Regions from separate parts of the Homo sapiens genome. Here region 1 is linked to region 2. The links come from fine-mapping of genetic effects on gene expression. Tissue or cell type: prefrontal cortex. Region 2 holds a variant in brackets; the other region holds the start of a gene. All regions are shown on one strand. Distances are from middle to middle.

Region 1 (12,379 bases), 71 kb before region 2:
TGCAAGGTAAGCTCCCAAATCCCTAATATGATGTACAAGGCCTTGGACCATCTGGCCTCTTCTTCTCTTTCCTCCCCGATCTTCCATCACTCCTCTCATTGAATCCTACATTTCTCAGCTGTTTCACAGGTACCTGCTTCAGCTACCCTATTGCATGGAGCAATCTATTGAATGGGTTGGATGGAAATGTCTGACCTGTCAACACATCTGAGTTCCTAAGCTGGCCATGAGGGACTCACACTAGGGTAAATATTCACCTTGTGAAAATTTGAACATTCCAAACGACATCCGCTTGTGCCATTTTCTAAGCCACTGATTATCATTCAATAAAAAGCTGACACCTGCGATCTTAGCTTCTTGGAAGGCTGAGGTGGGAGGATTGCTTGAGACCAGGAGTTCAAGATCAGACTGGGCAATATAGGAAGACCGCCCCCCCCCCCAACCCTAATAACAACAACAAAAGAGCATCAATTCTATACTTCTTATAAAACTAGGAGTTGGAGAAGGCTGATTACTCTGGCAACTACAAAAGGAAATTTTGTTGTAGGACTCTATTATTTATTTATTTATTTATTTTTGAGACAGGGTCTCTCTCTGTCACCCAGGCTGGTATGCAGTGGCATGCTCTTGGCTCACTGCAATCTCTGCCTCCCAGGTTCAAATGATTCTCTTGCTTCAGCCTCCCGAGTAGCTGGGACTACAGGCGTGCACTACCATGCCCAGCTAATTTTTTGTATTTTTAGTAGAGATGGGGTTTCACTATGTTGGCCAGGCTGGTCTCGAACTCCTGACCTCAGGTGATCTGCCCGCCTCGGCCTCCCAAAGTGCTGGGATTACAGGCATGAGCTACCGTGCCTGGCCTATTTATTTATTTTTTAAATATAGAGACAGGGTCTCTCCATGTTGCCCCAGCTGGAGTACAGTGGTTATTCACAGGCATGATCCCACTACTGATCAGCACAGAAGTTCTGGCCTGCTGTTTCTGACCTTGGCTGGTTCACTCCTCCTTGGGCAACCTGGTAGCCCCACACTCCTGGGAATTCACCATATTGATGCTGAACTTAGTGAGAACACCTGTTCTGCATAACACACATAACAGCCCAGAACTCCTGAGCTGAAATCATCCACCTGCCTCAGCCTCCCGAGTAGCTGGGACTACAGGCAGGTGCCATCTTGCCCTTGCAGGACTCTTAATCACAATGATGTTCACTGGGCAATCAAAATATAATTTTAGAGTCTAATAGAAAACGCCCTGTCCTTGGAGTCAGACAGACCTGCTATCTGGCTCTGCCACTTACCAGTTGTATGACCTTGGGCAAGTCACTTAAACTTTCTCAATTCTCTTTCCTTGTCTATAAAAAAGGGATGATAATCTATAACTTGCATAATTATATTGAGGATTAAATGAGATAAAAGATGTGAATAATCTTAGTGTAATTTAAAGATTCAATGAATATAATTGTTAACTAATCTGAGCCAAGACAAAAGGTAGAATTTTGTCTTCATTCAGGGGCCAGGTTCAGTGGCTCATGCCTGTAATTCCAGCACTTTGGGAGGCTGAGGCGGGGCAGATCACCTGAGGTCAGGAGTTTGAGACCAGCCTGACCAACATGGAGAAACCCCGTCTCTACTAAAAATACAAAATTAGCTGGGCGTGGTGGTACATGCCTGTAATCCCAGCAACTCAGGAGGCTGAGGCAGCCAAATCATTTGAACCCGGGAGGCGTAGGTTGCAGTGAGCCAAGATCACGCCATTGCACTCCAGCCTGGGCAACAAGAGCAAAACTCTATCTCAAAAAAAAAAAAAAAAGAATTTTGTTTTCCTTCCCATTCTTCCTTGGGCATTTGGATCTGGAAGTGAAGACAGTCCAGTATAATTTGATTTGTGTTGTTCTTCCCTCAGGTGGTTACCTTAGTCAATAAGAAGGTAGCTTATGAGGGCATAAATGATGCAACCCAAATGTCAGATGTGGCCTCTCTGCCTCCTTTTTTTTTTTTTTTTTTTTTGAGATGGAGTCTCGCTCTGTCGCCGAGGCTGGAGTGCAGTGGCGCGATCTCAACTCACTGCAAGCTCCGCCTCCAGGGTTCACGCCATTCTCCTGCCTCAGCCTCCCGAGTACCTGGGACTAAAGGCGCCCACCACGACGCCCGGCTAATTTTTTGTGTTTTTAGTAGAGACAGGGTTTCACCACGTTAGCCAGGATGGTCTTGATCTCCTGACTTCGTGATCCGCCCGCCTCGGCCTCCCAAAGTGCTGGGATTACAGGCATGAGCCACCGCCCCCGGCTTTTTTTTTTTTTTATTTGAGACCAAGTCTGACTCTGTCACCCAGGCAAGAGTGCAGTGGTGCGATCTTGGTTCACTGCAACCTCCGCCTCCCGGGTTCAAGCGATTCTCCTGCCTCAGCCTCCCAAGTAGCTGGGATTACAGTCACCTGCCACCATGCTGGCTAATTTTTTTGTATTTTTAGTAGAGATGGGGTTTCACAATGTTGGCCAGGCTGGTCTTGAACTCCTCACCTCAGGTGATCTGCCGACCTTGGCCTCCCAAAGTGCTGGGATTACAGGTGTGAGCCGCTGTCTGGCTGCCTCTCTGCCTCTTCAAGATCCAAATGCAATGGGCTTGAACCTCAATATTCACATTTCCCAACTCATGTAAGTGCAAAGTCCTACACAAGTTTTTGCAAGTTCCACAAGGGCTTGTGGTCTCACAGTTACCTCTGCTTCCAGTCTCCTTTTTCAACTGAGACCTAACAAAGCACATTGCTCAACTCCCTACTCATGTACTCTCACAATTCCCCTCTCTCAAAAAGCGTTCCTGGGTGTAATAGCCCTTCCTGAAGTCTTGAGAGTCACATAGGATGGTCACGTCCTAGTGTAACAAACAACTTATCCCATTTTAGGTATCCCACTGCTGAAACACTCTTGTCAACTACCATGGGAGAGTTTCTTCTGACTCTTTACCTATGTAGCACCTATCCTTACATTGATTTTCTTACTCATCTTTTTCCTTTTCCCCTCCGATCTCTATTAACTTGCCCTCCCATTTTGTCAAGTGAATTCCAAATTTGCCTTCCCCCAACCCTCCCACCCCCACCTTTTTTTTTTTTTTTTTTTTGAGATGGAGTTTCACTCTTGTTTCCCAGGCTGGAGTGCAACGGCGCAATCTCGGCTCATCGCAACCTCTGCCTCCTGCTACCCCTAATTTTGTTTAGATGGAGTCTCACTCTGTTGCCCATGCTGGAGTGCAGTAGCACAATCTCGGCTCACTGCAACCTCCGCCTCCCAGGTTCAAGTGATTCTCCCGCCTCAGCCTCCCGAGTAGGTGGGAGTACAGGCGCCCACCACCACGCCCGGCTAATTTTTGTATTTTTAGTGGAGACAGAGTTTTACCATGTTGGCCAGGCTGGTCTCGAACTCCTGGCCTCAGGTGGTCCCAAAGTGCTGGGATTGCAGACGTGGGCCATCATGCCCCACCTACCCCTACTCCCTTTTTAAACATAGAGAGCAATTTCTTCTCCCAAAGTTACGTATTCACTCTCATCAATTGAGGCCCCAAGCAGGACAAAAGGACTTTCTGTGCATTGGGATCTGTCATTCCTGGAAGGCAGTTGTGGTTTAAAAATAGCACTTTTTTTTTTCTGTTATACGAAGCACAGTGTTTCCTATTTGTTGAATGCTTACTGTATGCCTACCACTCTATCAAGTCCTCTCCAGTAGCTTGTGTTCTCATTTGATCTTCCCAACAACTCTGAGAAGCAGCTCTTATTATTGCTCTTTCTACAAATAAGGAAGGGGTGTGCGTGCGAGAGAAATTAGGTAATTGGCATAAGATCACACAGCAAGCAAGGACTGAAGACCAGGTCTGCCTGGCCCCAAGCCTGTGTGTGCCCTTTCTAATTTACTATACCGCCTTTCAGAGGAGGGAGAAGGAGAAAGCAACCAGAAGAACTGAGGCTACATAAAAGCAATACCATCTGTTCTCATATTGTCTCACAACTTTAAAAGGATGGCTCTATATGCTGTCTCATTATTCCTAGGAAGAAAGAATAATCATTATCATCTCGTCTATTTTGAAATGAGGGAAGTAGGGCCTTGTGAGAGAAAGAGAGTGAGGGAGCAGTTCAGCGTAGCATGTTTGATTTTGCTATTACAGAGGTACCAGCAGTGGGTGATTAAGAGCTCAAGAGTGACCATGGGAGCTGGTGGCCAAGGTGATGTGGAGGACAAGGACTGAGGGACCAGGAAATCTCATAGCTACTGAAGTCACCAGGAGGATGGCAGGACAGGGGCTAGTGAGGATGACCATGAGCCAGGGGCTGCAATCTGTAATGCATAAGGAGCAATTGGGGGGTCAGTGATGAGGAGGGGTTGAGGGGGGTATGGCTGGAGAGCACAGAAGAAAGAATTTTTGCACAAGGGTGGAAATGGCCATGCCATCCCCACATCCTAGTTTTATAGTATATGGGGAGTGGAAAAATGAGAAGCCTTCTAGCAGAGGGCAGCAAAGGAGGCAGTACCTGGAGGAGGCTCAGGCAAAGAAGTCACCTGAGTACTCTGAAGAAGCAGAGGGTATAGCAGAGTTTGTTGACAAAAGAACAGGATTCTAGAAGGCACAGAGGAAAGAGCTGCCAGTGTGATGGGCAGTGTGAGTGAAAGGGCTGGGCAAGAAGCTCAGAAGAGTAAGCGTCTGAGGCAGAGGCCAGACAAGCAGAGGAGCTGTCAGCTTGGGTGGTTCCTAGGCTGGAGATGTACACTGTAGACAGGGTCATAATGGAACTTGGGGGGAAAATGGTTTTGGTATTTGACTCAGACCTCTAAGATCTGAGATGGGGGAGAAGTGTGGGGAAAGACAATGATTCTAGAGCAAGCCTTCAGCTGGCTCCTGTGACCTCAGGAAGACTGGAAGTCCATATCAGGATTTGAGGGTGGGGTATTTATTGCCTCCTCTATCTGCCTCCTCTAGTGGAAGTGGGACTTCCTAGGGCCAGGCCAGGCAAGAACATTTTTCTACTCCTGTTGACAGCCTCCTGGTAATGGGAAACCATTGAGAGGTTTTTGTTTGTTTGTTTGTTTGGTTTTTGATGGAGTCTGGCTTTGTTGCCCAGGCTGGAGTGCACTGCTGGAGTGCAGTGATCTCGGCTCACTGCAACCTCTGCCTCCTGGGTGCAAGCAATTCTGCCTCAGCCTCCCAAGTAGCTGGGACTACAGGCATGCACCACCATGCCCGGCTAATTTTTGTATTTTTAGTAGAGACAGGGTTTCACCATGTTGGCCAGGTTGGTCTCGAACTCCTGACCTCAAGTGATCTGCCCACTTTGGCCTTCCAAAGTGCTGGGATTACAGGCGTCAGCCACTGTGCCTGGCCGAGAGTTTTCTTAAACAAGGTTGATGGTAACATGGTGACATTTTTTAAAGGGTTGCTCGGGCTTGTGTCAAAATGATTTTGGTATCTGACTCAGAATGAATGGGACCAGGAAGTCTCACAGCTACCGAAGTCACCAGGAGTATGGCAGAACAGGGGCTAGTTAGGATGACCATGGGCCAGGGGCTGCAATCTTTAATGCATAAGGAACAATTGGGTGTCAGTGATGAGGAGGGGTGGAGGGTGGTATGACTGGAGACCACAGGAGAAAGAATTTTTGTACAAGGGTGGAAATGGCCATGCTGACACCACGTCCTGGTTTTATAGGGTGAATTGGAGAGTGAAGGCAGGAATTAGGAAGCTGTTGCATTAGTCCAAGCAAGAAGTGATGATGCTGGAGTCAGAACAAGGGCAATGGAGACACAGAGGAAGGGCAGGGATATGTTAAGGCGGTGGGATGTGGGGTGTGAAGGAAACACAGATAGGGTAGAGGACAGCGTCCAGGTTTCTGGCTTGGTTTCCGCTTGTAGTCAGCCTCCCTCTCTGGGCTTTTGTGAAGACGGAGCCATAGAACGGACCGGACCAGAAAGCAGTTTGGAAATGGCAAAACTGCTACCCATCATCAGCTACATTATCATCAAAGCTCTCTAATTACCCTAGTAAGTTCAGTCAATGGAACGAGGCATGACAATTAAGATAAATCACGAGAGTCACCCAGACATGGGGGACCTGGAGGTCCTGAGTCACCTCGGATTACACCTGCTAGGAGTTGAGGGCCGGGGCGGGGCGAACACAGACTCCGCCCTTGGGCGGGGCCTGGATGCGGCCGGAGCGGAGCAGTGCTGGAGCGGGAGCCTCAGCCCTCAGGCGCCACTGTGAGGACCTGACCGGACCAGACCATCCCGCAGCGCCCCGCCCCGGCCCCCTCCGCGCCCTCCCGACGCCAGGTCCTGCCGTCCCGCCGACCGTCCGGGAGCGAACCCGTCGTCCCGCACTCGGAGTCCGCGGTAAGGGGCGCGGCCCCGGCAGCCCGCCCGCGGAGGATCAGGGACCGATCCCCGGCGCGGGGCGCTGGGCACCGAGAGCGGGCGCCGAGAAGGAGCGCGGGGCAGCGGAAGGAAGCCGGGGGAGGAGCGAGGGAGGGGGCTCCGCGGCGGCAGAGGTGGGGCTCACCTAGGGAGGGGGCGCCGAGGGGGTCTCCCAGACGTTGGGGGCAGCCGGGGGAGCTCCAAGGGCGGGAGGGGAGCAAGAAAGACGGCGCTGGGGCTGGGAGGAGAGATGGGGGGCAACTGGAGGGCAGTGAGGGATCGCTGGGGGAAACGGGGGCGTGGGGGGCGGGGGAGCTGCGAGGAGGGCGGAGTGGGGCTGTGCGGAAAGGTGGTACCGGGCAGCCGAGGGGCAGCGAAGGGGGCGGTGAAGGGAGCGGACTGAGGGGAGCTAGAGCGGGGGTGCGGGGGGAGGCATGGAGGTGAGGAGCTGAGGGGAGGGGACTGGCTGGGCGGGGGTCGTTTGGAGCTGGAGGGGACTGAGGTGCCGAGGGCAAGGGGCGCTGGGCAGCTGGGGAGTGTCTGGTTGGGAGAGGGTCGGGGGTGGGGATGTGGGTATGGATAGCTGGGAAGGAGAAAGGCAGCAGGGCAGTGTCTGGTCGAAAGAGGGTCATTTATGGGGGATGTGGGTATGGATAGCTGGGGTCGGAGGTTGAGCCCGGCTGGGGACCGGCGTGGGGGTAACTGTAGATGGAAGACGAGGGGTGGGGCTTGGGGGCGGGAAGCTTGGGAGAATGGAAGGGTGAGAGGCCAGGTTGGGTCTACCCTGCTGCAGAGGAAGGGGGCAGGGAGCCGGTGGAGACACAGGGAAGTGGCCTTGGAAATGGACACAGGGGCCTACATTCTGGTCAGGAGTGGAGAGGAGGCTCTGGAATAGAGTAGGGTCTGGCGGCTGCAAGTGGAGGAATCGTGGGAGAACTTGGAGTGTATAGATAGGGTGGTGGGGCGCTGGGTCAGCCTGGGGAGGAGGCCAGGTGTGGGTCGTGGTGTAAGGGTGGAAAGGTAATGGGGGCTGGAGTGGTGTCCACGCACTAGCGGTGTCTCGGCCACTCAGGAGTCCAAGGAGGGGACCCAGGCACTGGACCTTGTTACACGGGCACCGGGGATCACAGAAAATAAGAGAATCGTGGACAGAAAAAGTCATCCAACTCTGTTCTGTAGTCCAAGCATGGAAGCAACTTTGGGGAGGGCAGGGCAGCAGCCTTTGGAAGCTAAGAGAGATGTGGAGGAGGTGGGAGAAAGATGGGCCCTCAAAACACACACACACACACACACACACACACACACACACACACACACACACAAAACAAGATGGGCCCTCTTCCCCCGGCTTCCTGGAATCCAGATGGAAAGGGGTGGGAGACAGTAAAAGGAGAGGATGTGTGTGTGTGTGTGTGTGTGTGTGTGTGCGCGCGCACAGGTGGGTGTCCACCTGTTCTGTGCCTATAAACAGAGGAAGACAATGGAAGCCGTGAAAGGCCCTATCTATAGAAGTGGAAAGCCCTGGTGCCCTGTGGGAGCCAGAGAAGAAGCATTTTGGGGGAGGTGGGTGGGTTGGGGAAGCCTTCCTGGTCATGAAGGATTTAGCTAGCAGTGGAGGAAAGTGTGTTCCTATCAGAGGAAACCGTATGGGAAAAGGCAAAAATCTAAAAGCATCTCCAGTCCAAGAAATAGATCTTCAGTTTCTTAAAGATTATGACATGAAGGGAGGCATCAGTAACCTATACAAAATATTTAAATAGATTTCCCCTCTAAGCTTGAAGCTCCTAGGGTTTCTCTCCATCTCCCTAAAGTATAGCACAGGTCCTGGTGCATAGTAGGTGCTTGGTGAATGTTGATTGAATGAATAATTGGTGCTCCTGCCTCAATTTCTTCATCCATTCCCAAGAATTGTTGTGAGAATCAAATAGGATAATGTGGGTGAAAAGAACTTTGTAAACTGTAAAACAATGTACAAAGAGAGAGGCCACTGATGTTATTCTGCAGGTGTTCCTGTTTTGTCAGTGGACACACCCATGGCTATCTCTTTCCAATCTGGAGGAGGAAGGAAATGAATATCAAGCATCTGTTGGTGCAAGATGGAATGCTTTGAAAGCATCTTGTAGAATGCTAGACATTTAGTAGGTGCTCAATAAATGGTAGCTATTGTGATATTGTTTCTGTGGCTCTAGGAGACCTGGGAAAACAATGAGAAGGTGGTGATGGGTCAGCAGTGGGGAATGGTCTAAAGACAGATTGAATTAGAAAAGTAGAGTATGGCTTAAAGGAGGATGAGGTCCACATTTGCCCAACTCCCTTCTTATTCTCACTGAAATGCTCCAAGTAGGAAGACAGGGAATTACATTATTGAGCCCCTGCTATATTGCATATACAGTTGACCTTTGAACAGCATGGGTTTGAACTGTGTAGGTTCACTTATACCTGAATTTTTTTTTTCAACCAAACACTGATTAAAAAAAATACCATGGTGGGTCAAGCGCAGTGGCTCAAACCTGGAATCCCAGCTATTTGGGAGGCTGAGGTAGGAGGATCGCTTGAGCCCAGGAACCTGAAGCTACAGTGAGTTATGATCAGGCCACTGTACTCCATCCTGGGAAACAGAGTGACACCCATCTCTTAAAAAAGAAGAAAAAGAGAAGAAAATACAGTAGTGAAGGGAGGTGAAGTCTGTATATTCAGAGGACCAACTTTTAGTCTAGGTGGGTTCCACTGGGCCAACTGTGGTTCTTGAGTAGGCGTGGATTTCGGTATATATGGGGGTCCTGGAGCCAATCCCTTGCCTATACCAAGAAATTACTGTACTATTCTAGATGTATAACCCACATTACCTATAATTTTCCCAACAACACTTGTTTTATGAATGAGGAAACTGTCTTAATCATGTAACATTTCTTGCCAAGGTCTCATAGGTAATAAATGATAGACCTGGAAACTGAATCTAGTTTGTTTGATTTGGAGCTCCAAACTATTTCCACTACACAGGATGACTTGCTAGAAGAAACCATGAAGCACAGAGACAAACAAACAAACAAAATAAGGGGTTAATAAAACACCCTCCCATATACAGGTTTTAATTCTTGCAACAGTTTTGCCAGGAAGCCATTTTATGAGCTCCTTTTATAGATAAGGAAACTGAGGCCAGGGGTGTGATTTGCCTAAGTTTACAGGATCACTGAAAGAGCCAGGGCTTATCTTTCAAATGCCAGGTCTCTTGGACTCAGTCTCATGTTCTTTGCAACAAAAGGTAAGTTCCTTCATTCACTTCTTCACTCCATTTATTGAGCTGATCTCTTCTCGCTGGATTTTAGGGCTCTCTCCTCCTCCTCCCCGCTCTTTCCTGGCTGAAGTTGGCTTCTTCCTTAGGTGCTTATTTCTGCCGCCTATCAGACTGAAAGGGTTGTTTTTCACAGCCACCCTTTGAGGAGTCATTTCTTTCCCCCAGCCTGGGACAGGGACGACTTCCCAGATGGTCCCTGGGCCTTCATCTGTATTGCTTGTCACGGAGATAGCTCTATCATTTTATGTGACTGTCACAAAATAGAGGAAAGATTTGATTGATGCTTATCTTACAAATGCAATTCTGCATGCACCACTGTGCATGACCTGTCTGCTTAGATCTGCCTCAGGCAGCTGCCTGCTGGGATGCTTTTTGCCTGTCTTCCAAATGTCTGAGTAGCCCCTGGCCGCCCCCTCCTAAGAAGATCCCCTTGGGGGCTTCCATCTGAATGAGCCTTCCAACTGAACTCAGCTCTCTGCCTCTCCCCGTTCTCACACCACCTACTGGGAAAGCCATGCTGTGTGTGCATAAGCAGATGTTAACAGTGTGGTATGGCAAGTACAGTACGGTAGCAGGACACTCAGGATGTTGGGTATGCTTCTTTTTTTTAATTTTTATTTTTAGAGATAGGGTCTCACTCTGTCACCCAGGTTGGGATACAGTGGTGCAATCATAGCTCACTCTAACCTCGAACCTCTGGACTCAAGTGATTTTCCAGCCTCAGCCTCCCAAGTACCGAGGACTACAGGTGCACACCACCACATCCGACTAATTTAAACTTTTTTTGGCTGGGCGCGGTGGCTCACGCCTGTAATCCCAGCACTTTGGGAGGCCGAGGCAGGCGGATCACAAGGTCAGGAGACCGAGACCATCCTGGCTAACACGGTGAAACCCCATCTCTAGTAAAAATACAAAAAATTAGCCGGGTATGGTGGCGGGTGTCTGTAGTCCCAGCTACTCGGGAGGCTGAGGCAGGAGAATGGCGTGAACCCGGGAGGCGGAGCTTGCAGTGAGCTGAGATCGCGCCACTGCCCTCCAGCCTGGGCGACAGAGTGAGACTCTGCCTCAAAAAAAAAAAAAAAAAAAAAATTCGTAGAAATGGAATCTCACTATGTTTCCCAGGCTGGTTTTGAACTCCTGGCCTCAAGTGATTTTCCCATTTTGGCATCCCAAAGTGTTGGGATTACAGGCATGAGCCACCATGCCCAGCCAGGATGCTTCTTTATTCACCCTAAAATTGTTGTGGTTTTCGTTTTCCTTAATCCCGTCAAACCTGGAAGCCATTAGGTAACAGAAGTTCCATTCATGACCCTCCAACTGACTTGCTGTGTGAGCTTGGACAAATCACTTGTCTTTGCAGAGCCTCAATTTTTTTTTTTTTTTTTTACCTGTAAGATAAACGGAGGTAGATCAGGAACTGAAACAATTTTTTACTCTTGCCATCACTTCCTAGTCTCCTATCTGTGGCAGTCACAGCTAATAAAGGCAGGCAAATTTCTCACTGATTCTACACGAGGCTACATGTATTTTTCTCAGCACAGTGTATGAAACATACTTATATACGTTCTCTTATTTAAAATTCACAGCACCTCGTGAAGTAAGTATTATTGTCAGATGAGGACACTGAGGCATAGAATTTAAGTAACTAGGCCAAGTTTACACACTGAGTTACTGGGAAAGCTGGGCCCAGTAGCCAGGCTTTTTGTTACAATAAAAAGCTGCTACTCCAAAGTCCCCTCTAATTCTAGCAGTTTAAGAGTGTGAAGCTGGGCTACATCAGAAAAGTGAAAACCAGTAATCTGACATTTACACTGATAGTCTGGCACTTGAAAAATGCTCTATATGTGTTTCTTGAAAGACATAACACCCTCTAAGGATTTACTGTAGGTCTAGCGTTGACCAGATGTAAGGATGGATAAAGCCCCCTTGAATCCAGAAGAGAGAGCAAACAGTTAATTGTAAAACAGGCCCAAATAATGGAGCCACAATCAGGGAGAGGGCAGTTGAACAAGATTTGCCTGCAGAAGTGAATTAAAGGGGCCAGTGAAATAATATGTATTCAGTACCTCCATGGGCCGAGAAACTGTGTCAGATTGTTTACGTATAGTACTACTCTTTCTATTTGTACCAAGCTCTGTGAAGTAGGTGGTATTTTCTCTATTTTAAGGTAAAAGTGCTGTGGCTTAGAGAGGCAATATGACTTACCTAAGAATTCATCTGAGGGTAGAGCATTGATTTTAAACTTTTTCATAACACTGCAGGGTACTAAGTCTAGTCTCGGCTGTTAGCTATGAGATTTGGGCAAATCCTTTTAATTTCTCATTTTCAGTTTCCTTCTTGATCAAATGGAAATAATAATCCACGTCTTTCCAGCTTTATTTCCCAGGTTTATTTAGAGATAAAAGAAGATAAAGGATATGAAATTGTGGTAAAGATCACATTTATGTTTTAGTAGTGACTCTTTGACCAGCAATTCCACTTCAAGGAATCTCTCTCAAGGAAGTAATTAGGAAAATGTACAAAAATTTATGTAAAGAAATGTTCACTGCAGTTTCATGTATAATAATTAAGAGTAGAAAAACAACTTAAAAACAACTTCCTAAAGAGAGTGACAACATTAAATAATTGATCTGGCTGGGCCAACATGGTGAAACCCCATCTCTATTAAAAATACAAAAATTAGCCGGTGTGA
Region 2 (12,379 bases):
GCTTCTTAGTTCTTCCATCACCTATATAAGCAATTCCTTCTGGTTTAAAGAATAGTTCCCATTTTTCTGGTTGGAATCTGACTGAAACAATCACACAAAGTGCCATGAGAGTACAGGGGAGAGAGACATTATATGTTCTGAGTGGTAGAGGTGTTGTGGGGAAGAAAAAGTGAAGCTTCTCTGGGATCAGTAATTCCACAGATGAATAATGAAGATGATTAGGAGTAGTAGCTAGAGATTAATAACATGAGCAATGGCACAAAATCAGGAAGCACTGATGTTTCTGGAGCATAGTGTGAGCCAGGAAGATGAAGCTGGGGGAGTAGAGACCAGGCCATGCCAGGTCTTGGGTGTTCAGCCAGTGAGGCTGGATATTGAATTGATCAGACCTCTTTCAATTCCAGTGACACAAATCCAAGTCAAAATAGCTCAAGTTATAGGGACAGGTGAATAGCTGAAGCAAAATGGAAGAGAAGGTCCATCCAAGGTGCCGGATGGATTGTCCACATGACACTCAAAGTTCCAGAGAATGAAAACAAGCCTTGAGTAGAAAGGAAGACAGTGAGTCCCACTGAGCCCAAATCATCAGTGACCAGAGGATGTGAGTTGAAGGTTGATAAATGACAGAGATGAGGTGGTGTCAGAGCAGGATGGAGAAGGGATCTGAACCGTGGAGGAGACATGTTCTGGAGCAGTGTTGGGATGAGGAGAGGTGAGTTTAGCTGGTTGCAAGTTTCTGAATAGAATTCTGAGGTCGTATTCAGAAGCAGGCAGTGTGGATGCAGTCTATGGGTCTGTGACAGCTGCCTTTGGACAGAGTAGATAAACGTGATCATTTTTGGGGGGTGGAGGAACATCTCAGATTCAGTTAAGAATTGAGCCCCATTAAAAACAGCAGAAATGTCATTGTTCTGAAGCCAATTAGGAGAAGAAAAGGACTGGGGGCTAGTCTGGATAATTGGTTGTCATCTTCCTGGCCTCACTAGATTCTCAGCTCCTAAAAGTCCTTATTAATGAACCTGAAGAAAAGGTTACCATATGGACCTACTAATGAAGAATATTTCAGGAATCTGACAGTAATTGGGTGGGGTGCATTTGGGGTTATTCTGCTAAGCAAGAGAGGCCCTTGAGCTGGCTAGACCCATGAGTTGGTAACTTGAGTCACAGTTCTCACATTCCGGGTACCTTTGAGATGACAGTAAAGACATCTCTTTGGCATGACACAAGAGCTCCCCCTGTTTGGCCCCCTGCTGACTCAACTCTCACCACTTAGGGTTTTCTGCTCTAAGGATAACAAACTGCTATGGCCCTTTTGGCATAGACCAAGGCTGATTTTGCCCCCTTATCTGTGCTCTATTCATGCTGTCTCCCCTGCCTGTTGTGCTATGCTAGACATGCCTGTGCTCACACATACACTCACAGTGACATGTCTTTGTCTAGCTGATATCTGCTTAAGCATCAGCTTCTCCAAGAAACCGTCCCTGGTCTCCAGGCTTGGTTAGATGCTTTCTCTGTGCCCTGACAATCCCCTGGCTTCCCTCCATTCCAACACTTATTGCCCTGTAATATTGTCAATGTGTCTATCTTCCATAACACACTAGGGGCTCCTCAAAGGTAAGGGCTGTGTCTGATTCACCTTGCTGTCCCCAATGCCCAGCACCGTGCTCATTGAGCTGAGCTTTCATGACCCACACTATCCGTATCCCCTCAACCACACCCTCCTTGCTCATTCCCACCTCCTTAATTCAACTATTCATTCCACCAACATTCACTAAGCACCTACTCTTCCAGGTGGTGCTGGGGCTCAGAATGACATAGTTCCTGTTTGGGGAGCTCCCTGTCTATATGGACTTCTGCCATGCAGGGTAAAAAGTGCTATGGCAGGAGGAAGCACAGAGGAGAATGAAGATACCATATGTAAGCTGAGTCCTGAAGAATGAGAAGAAGTTAGGTGAAGAGTTTTGTTTAATTATTTTTAATGTAATTTATTTGTGTATTCATTTATTTATTTATGGTCTCGAACAACTGGCCTTAAGCAACCTTCCTGCCTTGGCACCCCCAAAGTACTGGGATTCCAGGCTTGAGCCACTAGCACCTAGCCAGTTTTGCTCAGTTCTGACTTTTTTTTTTTTTTTTTTGAGACAGAGTCTCACTCTGTCGCCCAGGCAGGAGTGCAGTGGCGCAATCTCAGCTCACTGCAACATCTGCCTCCCAGGTTCAAGCAATTCTTCTGCCTCAGCCTCCCGAGTAGCTGGGATTACAGGCAGTGCCACCACACCCGGTTAATTTTTGTATTTTTAGTAGAGACAGGGTTTCACCATGTTGGCCAGGCTGGTCTCTAACTCCTGACCTCAGGTGATCCACCCACCTCGGCCTCCCAAACTGCAGGGATTACAGGCGTGAGCCACTGCACCCAGCCTGAGTTCTGACTTTAAAGGCTCACATCCTCACTAACTTCAAGAAGCTTCCTCCTCCTCTCCTTCCCTGCCAGCCTCTCCCTCTCCTGCATCCCTGCATGGCCTCTGGTTTCCTCTACCTGGGTTAGAATGTTACAGCTTGTTCTGTTGCTGTTCCAACTGAGCGTGAGACAAGGAGGCATAAGGGATAGACCCCTGGCCCATCTCTGAGTCTCAGTTTTCCTGTCTGCAAATTACAAGTGCTAACCCTTGCCTTGCCCCACCCCACTCACATGGTTGTTTTCGTATTTGTGAACTGTTAATGTGAACTGCAGATGGGAGAGACTGATGCCTTTATTAGCATGTCTTTTCTACAACTATAATTGATCTCCCTGTGTCTGTATCTCTAACACTCAACACAAGACATGGCACAAGGTCAATGCTCAATAAAGACTTGGTGGGCCAGTCACTGTGGCTCATGCCTGTAATCCCAGCACTTTGGGAGACCGAGGCGGGCAGATCACCTGAGGTTGGGAGTTCCAGACTAGCCTGGCCAACATGGTGAAACCCTGTCTCTACTACAAATACAAAAATTAGCCGGGTGTGGTGGTGGGTACCTGTAATCCCAGCTACTCAGGAGGCTGAGGCAGGAAAATCGCTTGAACCCGGGAGGCAGAGGTTGCAGTGAGCCGAGATTGTGCCACTGCACTCCAGCCTGGGCGACAGAGCAAGACTCTGTCTCTCAAAAAATAAATAAATAAAAATGAAATTAAAAAAAAAAAGACCTGGCTTATTGATTGACCCTAAGTGATGAAGACAAAGAGATTTCCCCAAAGGCCCTGGAGACAGTAGAGGTGCAAGGAAGCTGGGAGTAAGGTGGGCCAGGAACATATAGGAAAGAGAATTGCCATGTATTCACATGCCAATCATGTCATATACTTTCATGGATTTAATTTTCATTACTATCCTATGGGGTAGGTAGTATTCGCCTCATTCTATAGATGAGGAAACAGAGACTGGGAGCAATTAGGCAACTTGTCCAAGATCACACAGCTAGTAGCTGCCCTCTGTACAATGTGGCATGTCCTCCCCTCAGTGCCACTTCCTCACAAGGGATTTGTGCCCCTGGCCTTGAACTGTGTCCTCATCTTCATCTGAGCTGAAAACCTATTTACTTACTTACTGGTCTGCCTCTTTCCCAAATAAACAATACACTCCCCGCACCTCCCCAAACACTGCCACTTGTGATAAGGCAGTCAAAGACTGGGGAGTCCATTTTTGTGACGTTCATTAAGGAAAAACGATATGCTGGAGGGTCTCTGAAGCTGACTGGGTTTCTATGGCCTGAGTATAATGAGCCAGCAGCTGCCTCCTTCTTCATCACATGTCCACAATTAGCAGGCACTTCTGCTGCTTGTCTTTCTCAGGTCAGGAGATGGGCCACAGGAGAGGCTGTCAGCTGGAGGTGGGCTGGCAGGAATGGCATGTGCCTTCCAGCCAAAAGGCTGGGAAAAGAGAGGCCTTGTTTATACCTGGGGGGCTTCAGCCCTCTCTATGGATGGTGGAATAATAGGGAGAAAGAGGGAGGGGGGAAAGAGATCCCTCCTTTGTTAGAGAAGATGATAAAAGAGGATGTTAGAAAGATGGAGAGGAGGTGGGAGGAACAAGTTGAAAGAACAGAAGGAAACTGTCTTTATAACAGGCCACTTTTTTACAGCAATGTATTCATCATCTCACACACTCCTCCCACCTGTTCTTGGTAGGAAGACACTGTTGTTTGTCTTATTTGACAACAGGGAGTCTGAGAATTGGAGAGGTTAAGTGAGCAGAGAGGTGAAGTGACTTGCCCAGACTCAGATACTGTTAGTCGGATTAAAGCAGAGGAGGCCAAAGAGACTTGTAAAGGAAGAAAAAGGTATAATCAGGAAAAAAAAATGCAAAGTGAAAGAGAAAAGGGGGAAGAAATGAGAGGCAGAGCTGTGTGTGGACTTTGGAGACAGCCAAACCCAGGTCTAAATCCAGTTTCCGCTAATACAGCCACATGACTTTGTGTGAGTTATGCAGTCTCTCATATTCTCATTTATAAATTGGAGATGATGTTATTTACCCAACTGGTTATTGTGAGGATTAAAGAAGATGATATCAGTAAAGCTCCTAGCATAGTGTCTGGCATGTAGTAGTTGCCCCAAAGATATTAGGAATCCCAAGGAGAAAATGCAAGGGACACAGGGGAAAGGCTCCAAAAGAAGGGAAAGAGGAAAGCAGACAGACAACAGAAGTGGGAGAGGGCTGGGGACTGATGGAGAGGGCCACTTTTGCTTCTAAGGGCTGCCACCAAGCTGACCAAGATTCCTTGGGTGGAAAGCAGCCTTTTGGAATCAGGAGGGCCTTTGCTGTGTCTCTTGGGACAACCAAGTTCTTTTCATCACAGAAAGTGACGCTAAGGGTCTCAAGATACAAAATAGACAAGAATGTTGCATACCTGAGATGTAGTTTTCCCTGGGCCTTTTGTTGGGTTTGTGGAGGGAGGGTGAGATCTATTGGATCGTTTTAGTGGAATTCAGGGAGGAGGAACCCCACTGAGTGGAAATAAACCAGTGTGGCTATGGGTGGAAAGGGCAAAGAAGACTTATTCAGTGTGAATCTTGAGGTGCCTCCTAGAGCCCAGACTAGAGCTGGCCAGCCTAGGGGGAATGAGAGGCAGGGGAAAGAGGAGGAAAATCCCTGCGAAAAAGTCCAAAACCTGGGCTTCTCATACTGGTGCTTTTCCTTATCTTGGGCAAGCTAGCTTACTTCTGTAAGCCAGTGTTTGTATTAGTGAAGTGGAGAGGATCTGACTGAGACTCCTTCCTCAGGGGCAACATGAAGATCAAATAAAATAATCTATGTGATAAGTGCTTTGGAAACTGTAAGGTGCTGTGGACACACGTTTATGCATTTGCTCTGTCAGCAAACACTAATGACCCCCTCTGTGTCAGGCACAGGGTTATATATTTCACATACATTGTCTTGCCTGATCCTTGAAATAATTCTATGAAGTAGGTAAAATTATCCCTTTTTACAAACCAGGAAATTGATTTGTAAAGAGAATAAATGACTCAGCCCGGAATTAAACAGCTGGGCGGTGGTAGAGCTAGGATCAGTCTGACTGAAAGACCAGTGCAGGAAACTCCTGCCCTGTACCGTCTCCTTGAAGCAGAATCCCATGTCCGTGGAATTTAGCCTCTTTGCTTCACTGCTGAGCACTGGACATATTAATCCAGAGTGCTTGGGCTGAGGGCACAGAAGGGTTCCAGCAGAAGGGATGGGAAAAGTCCTTATCTGTATCTCTCCTCTTTCCAGGGTTTGATTTCTTTGAAGCCAGTGCAAAGGAGAACATCAGTGTAAGGCAGGCCTTTGAGCGCCTGGTGGATGCCATTTGTGACAAGATGTCTGATTCGCTGGACACAGACCCGTCGATGCTGGGCTCCTCCAAGAACACGCGTCTCTCGGACACCCCACCGCTGCTGCAGCAGAACTGCTCATGCTAGGCAAGGCCCACCTTCCTGACCTCCCCTCATTGTGGCCCCACACCCAGTCTGCTTCTCCCTGTTACACACTGTCCGCTCTCAGCCCACTCTCCCTGTTACACACTGCCCACACTCAGAGCAAGATGAGTTGCTGCTATTCTTTGCCTGCCCCTGGGGTTCTCTGCAGATGGTCCCAGTAATAGATACTCAGCACTAGACTAACATAACAGGTCACTACACGGGTGCAGAATCACTTTACAAAAGAAGACTCTGTTTTACGAAGGGGATTCACTACAGGGACTTAGAGAACAGTCTCTTTTCTGCCTTTAAAATGAGAGTTCCTCCATTTACCAAAATTTGACACGCACACATTCTTCAGGGGCATGCCAATTGCGTAAAGTGAGGCTCGCCTGCATAGCTAATCCTGTTAAAGACAACTTCTCAAAGCACAACGTGCTTGTTTCCTATCGGGCTCCCTGCGGGGCTTTCTCTCACTACAAGTCAAGCTTGGGCTCTCAAAGCCCTGCGCCTGTTACCACGGATGCCCACAGGGCCTGGGCAGTTGCTGTGGCGACAGGAAGAGCTAATCTTCAGAGAGCTCAGACTCTCTAATGATGCTGAAGGAGCAAAGGCTGAGTCAGAAACACACTTAAGAGAAAAGGATTGGCCGGGCGCGGTGGCTCACGCCTGTAATCCCAGCACTTTGGGAGGCCGAGGCGGGTGGATCATGAGGTCAGGAGATCGAGACCATCCTGGCTAACAAGGTGAAACCCCGTCTCTACTAAAAATACAAAAAATTAGCCGGGCGCGGTGGCGGGCGCCTGTAGTCCCAGCTACTCGGGAGGCTGAGGCAGGAGAATGGCGTGAACCCGGGAAGCGGAGCTTGCAGTGAGCCGAGATTGCGCCACTGCAGTCCGCAGTCCGGCCTGGGCGACAGAGCGAGACTCCGTCTCAAAAAAAAAA[AAAAAAAAAAAAAG/G]AGAAAAGGATTATCCCCTACAAAATGTCAGAGGTTCCTGCTATATGAAAGAGCAAGTAGGTATGCTCAAGAAAGACAAACAGAGAAAAAGAGAAACAGGCAAGATCAAGAAACAGATCATGAGTTTCTGATTTTGCTGCTTTCCAGTTGGTTCTTAACTGTGGGAACTTAGTGAAATTGGTTATTAGTTCTTAGACTCCTAGAACCTGAGGATTTTAGATTTGACGGGATGCCCAAATTTACCTAGTCTGACTAGTCAGTTCTAACCTTCCTTTTTCTGACAAGTGACTGTCAAGCCTAACAATCAAATCTCTTTCTTTTAAAGCACACCTTCTAGGCAGGGACAGGAGCTCATTTTCCACACCATCTTTGTCAACTCTCATAGAAAGTTTTCCTTGTATCGAGCTCAAATCTGCCTCCTGGAAATTCTTCTTCTTCTTCCCTCCCTGTTGGTACCAGCTCTGCTGTCAGAGACTTCACAGTCTGTGCTCCCTCTGCCCTGTGACGTCTTCAGACTATTTGAGAACAGGAATCATGACTCCTGGGACTTGCCTTTTCTCTAGGTCAAATACCTCTATAATTCCATCTGCTGTTCTTCATAGGGTCTTCTCCCTATCCTGCCCTTTTCCTCCAATCCATCTTTTAACTGCTCTTGAGCAGTCTAACTGAGAAGTATGATTCAAAGCAAAATAAATCTTAAGGTGGCATGACTCTGAAAAAATTGAGAAAATTGAACTCAGAGATCCCGATCCCAACCCCTTTCTCCTGGGAGTGAAACCTTAGTTTCTACCAGAGAGTGTGGGAAACCACTTCTGGTGGAAGCCCCTTAATTAAATACCTGAGGAAAAAAATAAAAGAAACTCAGAGACCAGAATAAATTAGCTCATTATTCTAGCTTGCTTGGCCACAGGGACATATTTTGTTTTGGCTGAAATAATGACATGGAACTGGCAGTGATTCCAGAAAACCTTTCTTCTCTATCATGGCCTGAATCCTCAGCCACCTCAAAAGTCAGCGGGCAGGAGGAGTCTCTCGCCAGTTTTCTTTTCATTTCAAATGAGGCTCATTGTCCTAGAAAAGTAATTAACTAGCAACCAGTCCAATGACTAAATAAAAGGACCATCCAGCTGTGGCTCACACCTGTAATCCCAGCACTTTGGAAAGCCAAGGCAGGAGGAACACTTGAGGCCAGGAGTTTGAGACCAGCCTGGGCAATGTGGTCAAATTCTATCCCTACAAAAAAAAAAATTAGCCAGATGTGATGGTGCATGCCTGTAGTCCCAGCTACTTGGGAGGCTGAGGCAGGAGGATTGCTTGAGCCCAAGAATTTGAGGTTGCAGTGAGCTGTAATTATGCCACTGCATTCCAGTCTGGGTGACAGAGTAAGAATAAGACCCTGTCTCTCTGTCTCTCTTTCTCTCTTTTTTTTTTTAAAGGAGTCAGCTCTACAAAGATGTTGCTTTCTTTGATGCAATGCAGAGAGCAGAGCTTTGGACTTGGAATCAGGAGACCCGGACTCTGTCATTAAATCAACTGTGACTCTGGGCCAGTTACTTTCCACTTTTGAGTCTTGATTTCCTACTTATAAAATGAGGGAGCTTATTTGGATGATCTTTAAGGTCTCTTTTGGCACTAATAACTCGGTGTCTCTTTTTTTTCACCTTCACCATTTCAGTTGATCCACCAAACAAACCTGAGAGATCAGGATTGGCATCCAAGAGTTGTCTCGGCCAACTCTGATGTCATGCTTACTCTGTACTAGACATTGTTCCAAGCATTTTACGTGCATTAACTCATTTATCTTCCCAACATCTTGTGAGGGAGGCACTATAGTGAGCCTCATTTGAAGATGAGGAAACAAAGGTACAAAGAGGTTCTAGCTGGACCTCTAAAGTCACATAATAAGTAAGTGGTAGAGCTGGAGTTCACATCCAGGCAGTAGGCTCCAAGGTCTGTGCTCTTAACCACATTCTGGGCTGCATCTTTTATAGACAAACTATGATCCAGAGAGATTACGAGACTTGGATCACATACCAAGAGAGTGTTAAAGCCACATTAGGATTCAATTCCAGGGCCATCAGATTCCAAGTCCACTGGAGAAAAGATGTATATCTCTAATCTGTTAACAAATTGCTCAACTACTCAGACTAATCCCAGGTGATGGATGTCTAATGCTCAGGAAAGGCGAGTCAGTCTCTGAGGCAACAGATCCCATGGGCCTGGGTAGAAAATGCCCAGTGCTTCCCAGTCCCAAGTGCTGGCTTTCCCTGTATCTGCCTCTGCCAGGCAACACTTATCAGGCTCCCAATCAGCAGGAGCCTCCATGCTCCACTTTGAACAGCCTCTATGCTCCAGCAATGGGGCATTTGTGAAGAGTGACTTGATTAACTTTTCTGACCATGGGTATAATACAGTTGCTTCAGAGGGCAGTGGTTCTGGGTGTGATTTTTACACTGTAACATTGTATACAGTGTCATGGATAATTACTATTTTTTTCTGGTCATTAACACTCACCTACTCTAGTACTAGGATTTCAGACCAAGGTCCTCATGACGCCTGGATATTTTAGTATCTATATCCAATAATCTTTTCTCTCCTACTGAATATCCAGGCAAAGATGAAATCGTTTTCTTTAAAACTGTCAAATTCTGTAAAACTCAGGAGCCAGTTCAAGGGAACAAGCATCTTCACAATAGATGGAATCAAGAGTTAAATGTTATAGTGGCAAGCTTGTCTACTGGGCAACAGACAACCAGACCTGCTTGTGAGATGGCAGCTCCCCAGCCCTGCTCTGTGACCTCATTTCTGTCAAATGAAAGGCAGCAGCTTCCAGCTGATTGCAGCATAGTGTTCATCAATCACAGTAATAGCGCAATTAGCCACCAAGGTTCAAGCTGTGTAATATGTGTTAGTGGCAACTTGTCCTGGATTTAATCTTCCTCAACAATCCAAATAAAATATTTAAAAACTCTTGACTTCTGGCTGGGCGCAGCAGCTCATGCCTGTAATCCCAGCACTTTGGGAGGCCGAGGTGGGCAGATCACCTGAGGTCAGGAGTTCAAGACCAGCCTGGGCAACATGGTGAAACCCCCATCTCTACTAAAAATACAAAAATTAGCCAGGCGTGGTGGTGGGCACCTGAAATCCCTACTCAGGAGGCTGAGGCAGAGAATCGCTTGAACCTGGGAGGCAGAGGTTGCAGTGAGCCGAGATCGTGCCACTGCACTTCAGCCTGGGTGACAGAGCGAGACTCCATCTCAAAACAAAACAAGCAAACAAACAACAACAACAAAAAACACCTCTTGACTTCTAAAGACGCAAAAGTGGCCAAAAGTGCAATACAGTATTGTGTTTATTTACATCTATTTTAAATGCATGTGTATCTGTAAATACAAAGTGATTCGTGACTCATTGTCTCCTCAGTCTATAGCATTATTAACTTCTAGGAGCAGCAGTGGAGTAGAGTGTACTGAATGGTCACAGACTCATCGATTATCAGATCTGGAAAGGAGCTTAGAGAAGATCTGTTCCAGGCTCCTATTTTATAGAAGGGAAGGTTGACATCCAAAGAATGGAAGGAAATCTCCTAATTATTCTGAGAGTATCACAGTGATGGAGCCAGGACTAGGTCCTGGATCACCTCTAAGAAGACACTTAGCTATTTGACTATCGACTAGGGCCTAGCATTATTAAGCACTAGATAAATACAGATGAAAAAAAAAATGATCCCTGCCTGCAAGGTCCTATGATCTAATGGAGATGCTGTTTCTAAAATATTATTATCCCAATTTGGCAGTCAAGGAAACAGCCCTGGAAAAGTTAACATGCTCAAGTCACCCACTAGCATCATTTGAACCCTCCTCTGTCTGACTCATGCTCTTTCAAATTTTTTTCTTCAGATTGTCTTAGCAGAAGGGTAGATGGGATATACCCTCTGGTAGTACCAGGCTCCCAAGGATTCTTAGAGTTAAATAACCTCAGTTAATTAAATAGCCACAATTGCTTGGTGACCGAAGCCTTATAACATCCACAGAATAAGACCATTCTCCAGACCTGACTCCCCAACTCATATCACCTGCTCCTGCCGGCCACTAAGCTCCTTGCTTGGATATCGAGTTTTCTGGAGTATCCTGAGGAATGTTTGTTTGACTTTGTTTGCCAACAGTTTAGGGGAAGGGGAAAGAACTACAATAACCAGTGTCCTGGGATCTCATTGATTTCAGATTCCCTGCCCCAAGCCTACACCCAATTACCTGCCATAGTTGGGGAATCAAGTAGCATCCTGTGGCTGGAAGTAAATGCAAAACACTAGTCCGTGAGATATAAATACTGTTAAATGATGGTTTTTTAAGGTCCTGATCCATTATATGAAGTAGACAAAATTCAAATTTATTTATTCATTTATTTTCTCAACAAATGAATATATATTATGTGCCAGGATACAAGTAGTGGCAAATTAGACACAGTTCTTGCTTTCATGAAACGTATAGCTTCATGATTTAGTATAGACATTGTCAAATCATCACCCAAATATAATTACAAAGTACTCTAAAGGAAAGGCACGTGATGCTGTGAGAACACTCAACTGGGAAACCGGAATCACCTTTGAGAAACTGTTTCAGGGGCTCTTGGAAGAGTCTACTGCTCCCAAATATCTCTGCTACCCACTGGCCATTGCTTTACATTCCTCAACTAAGCTTTCACCTTTTAGTACTAACCTTTGATGACTGATCAAATACAAATGCCCCAAGAAGACTGAGGATAGGAGAAAGAATATCTCTACCTGTGAAACATTGTTAGACTGCCTGGCTAGGAGTTCATTGTTGTTTTCTGAAGGACGTAACCAACCACTCCAAAACTTACAGGCTTAAAACAACAAACATGTATCATTTCTTATGATTCTGTGGGTTGGCTGGGTGGTTCTTCTGGCTGAGGCAGGATGGTCTAGGATAGCTACATCCACATGTCTGGGGTCCCAGCTGAGATGACTGGGGCTGTTGAGGCCTTTCTCCCTGTGGTGTCATCCTCCAGAAGGCTGCCCAGATTTGTCCATATGGTAGCAGGAGTTTCCTCGAAGCAAGAGAGGGCAAGATCCAACACAGAAGCACTTTTCAAGCTCTGTTTCCATCACATTTGCCAATGTCTCACTGATGAACACAAGTTCCATGGCCAAGTCCAGTTTTAAGAAATGGAGAAATAGGGCTTGGCTCAGTGGCTCATGTCTGTAATCCCAGCACTTTGGGAGGCCAAGGCATGCGGATCATTTGAGGTCAGGAGTTCCAGACCAGCCTGGCCAACATGGTGAAAACCCATCTCTACTAAAAATACAAAAATTAGCTGGGTGTGGTGGCGGGCATCTGTAATCCCAGCTATTTGGGAGGCTGAAGCACAAGAATTGCTTGAACCCAGGAGGAGGAGGTTGCAATGAGCCTAAATCGCACCACTGCACTTCAGCCTGGGCGATAGAGCCAGACTCAGTCTCAAAAAAAAAAAAGGGG

Direction of the effects. Alleles are on the strand shown, and positions count from the first base shown. SD is a standard deviation of normalised expression in the study named.
With allele G in place of AAAAAAAAAAAAAG in region 2, the expression in prefrontal cortex of the gene that starts at base 6,223 in region 1 is lower (moderate effect, 0.48 SD a copy in ROSMAP).

Evidence for each region.
Region 1: it holds the start of RAB3B, and the variant in region 2 is fine-mapped to the expression of RAB3B in prefrontal cortex (ROSMAP, PIP 0.95).

The regions. Positions count from the first base shown.
Region 1 is chr1:51,984,544-51,996,922 of GRCh38, reverse strand. It overlaps RAB3B (RAB3B, member RAS oncogene family), which reads left to right and starts at 6,223. Exons shown (of 5, transcript NM_002867.4): 1 at 6,223-6,371. It also overlaps the pseudogene RN7SL290P. RefSeq lists a silencer at 6,200-6,309.
Region 2 is chr1:51,913,474-51,925,852 of GRCh38, reverse strand. RAB3B (RAB3B, member RAS oncogene family) reads left to right here. Exons shown (of 5, transcript NM_002867.4): 5 at 5,739-12,379. The coding sequence ends at 5,926. Among named protein-coding and RNA genes, the nearest start is that of NRDC, 41 kb to the right of the region's middle. The variant AAAAAAAAAAAAAG/G (reference allele first, on the strand shown) is at 6,869.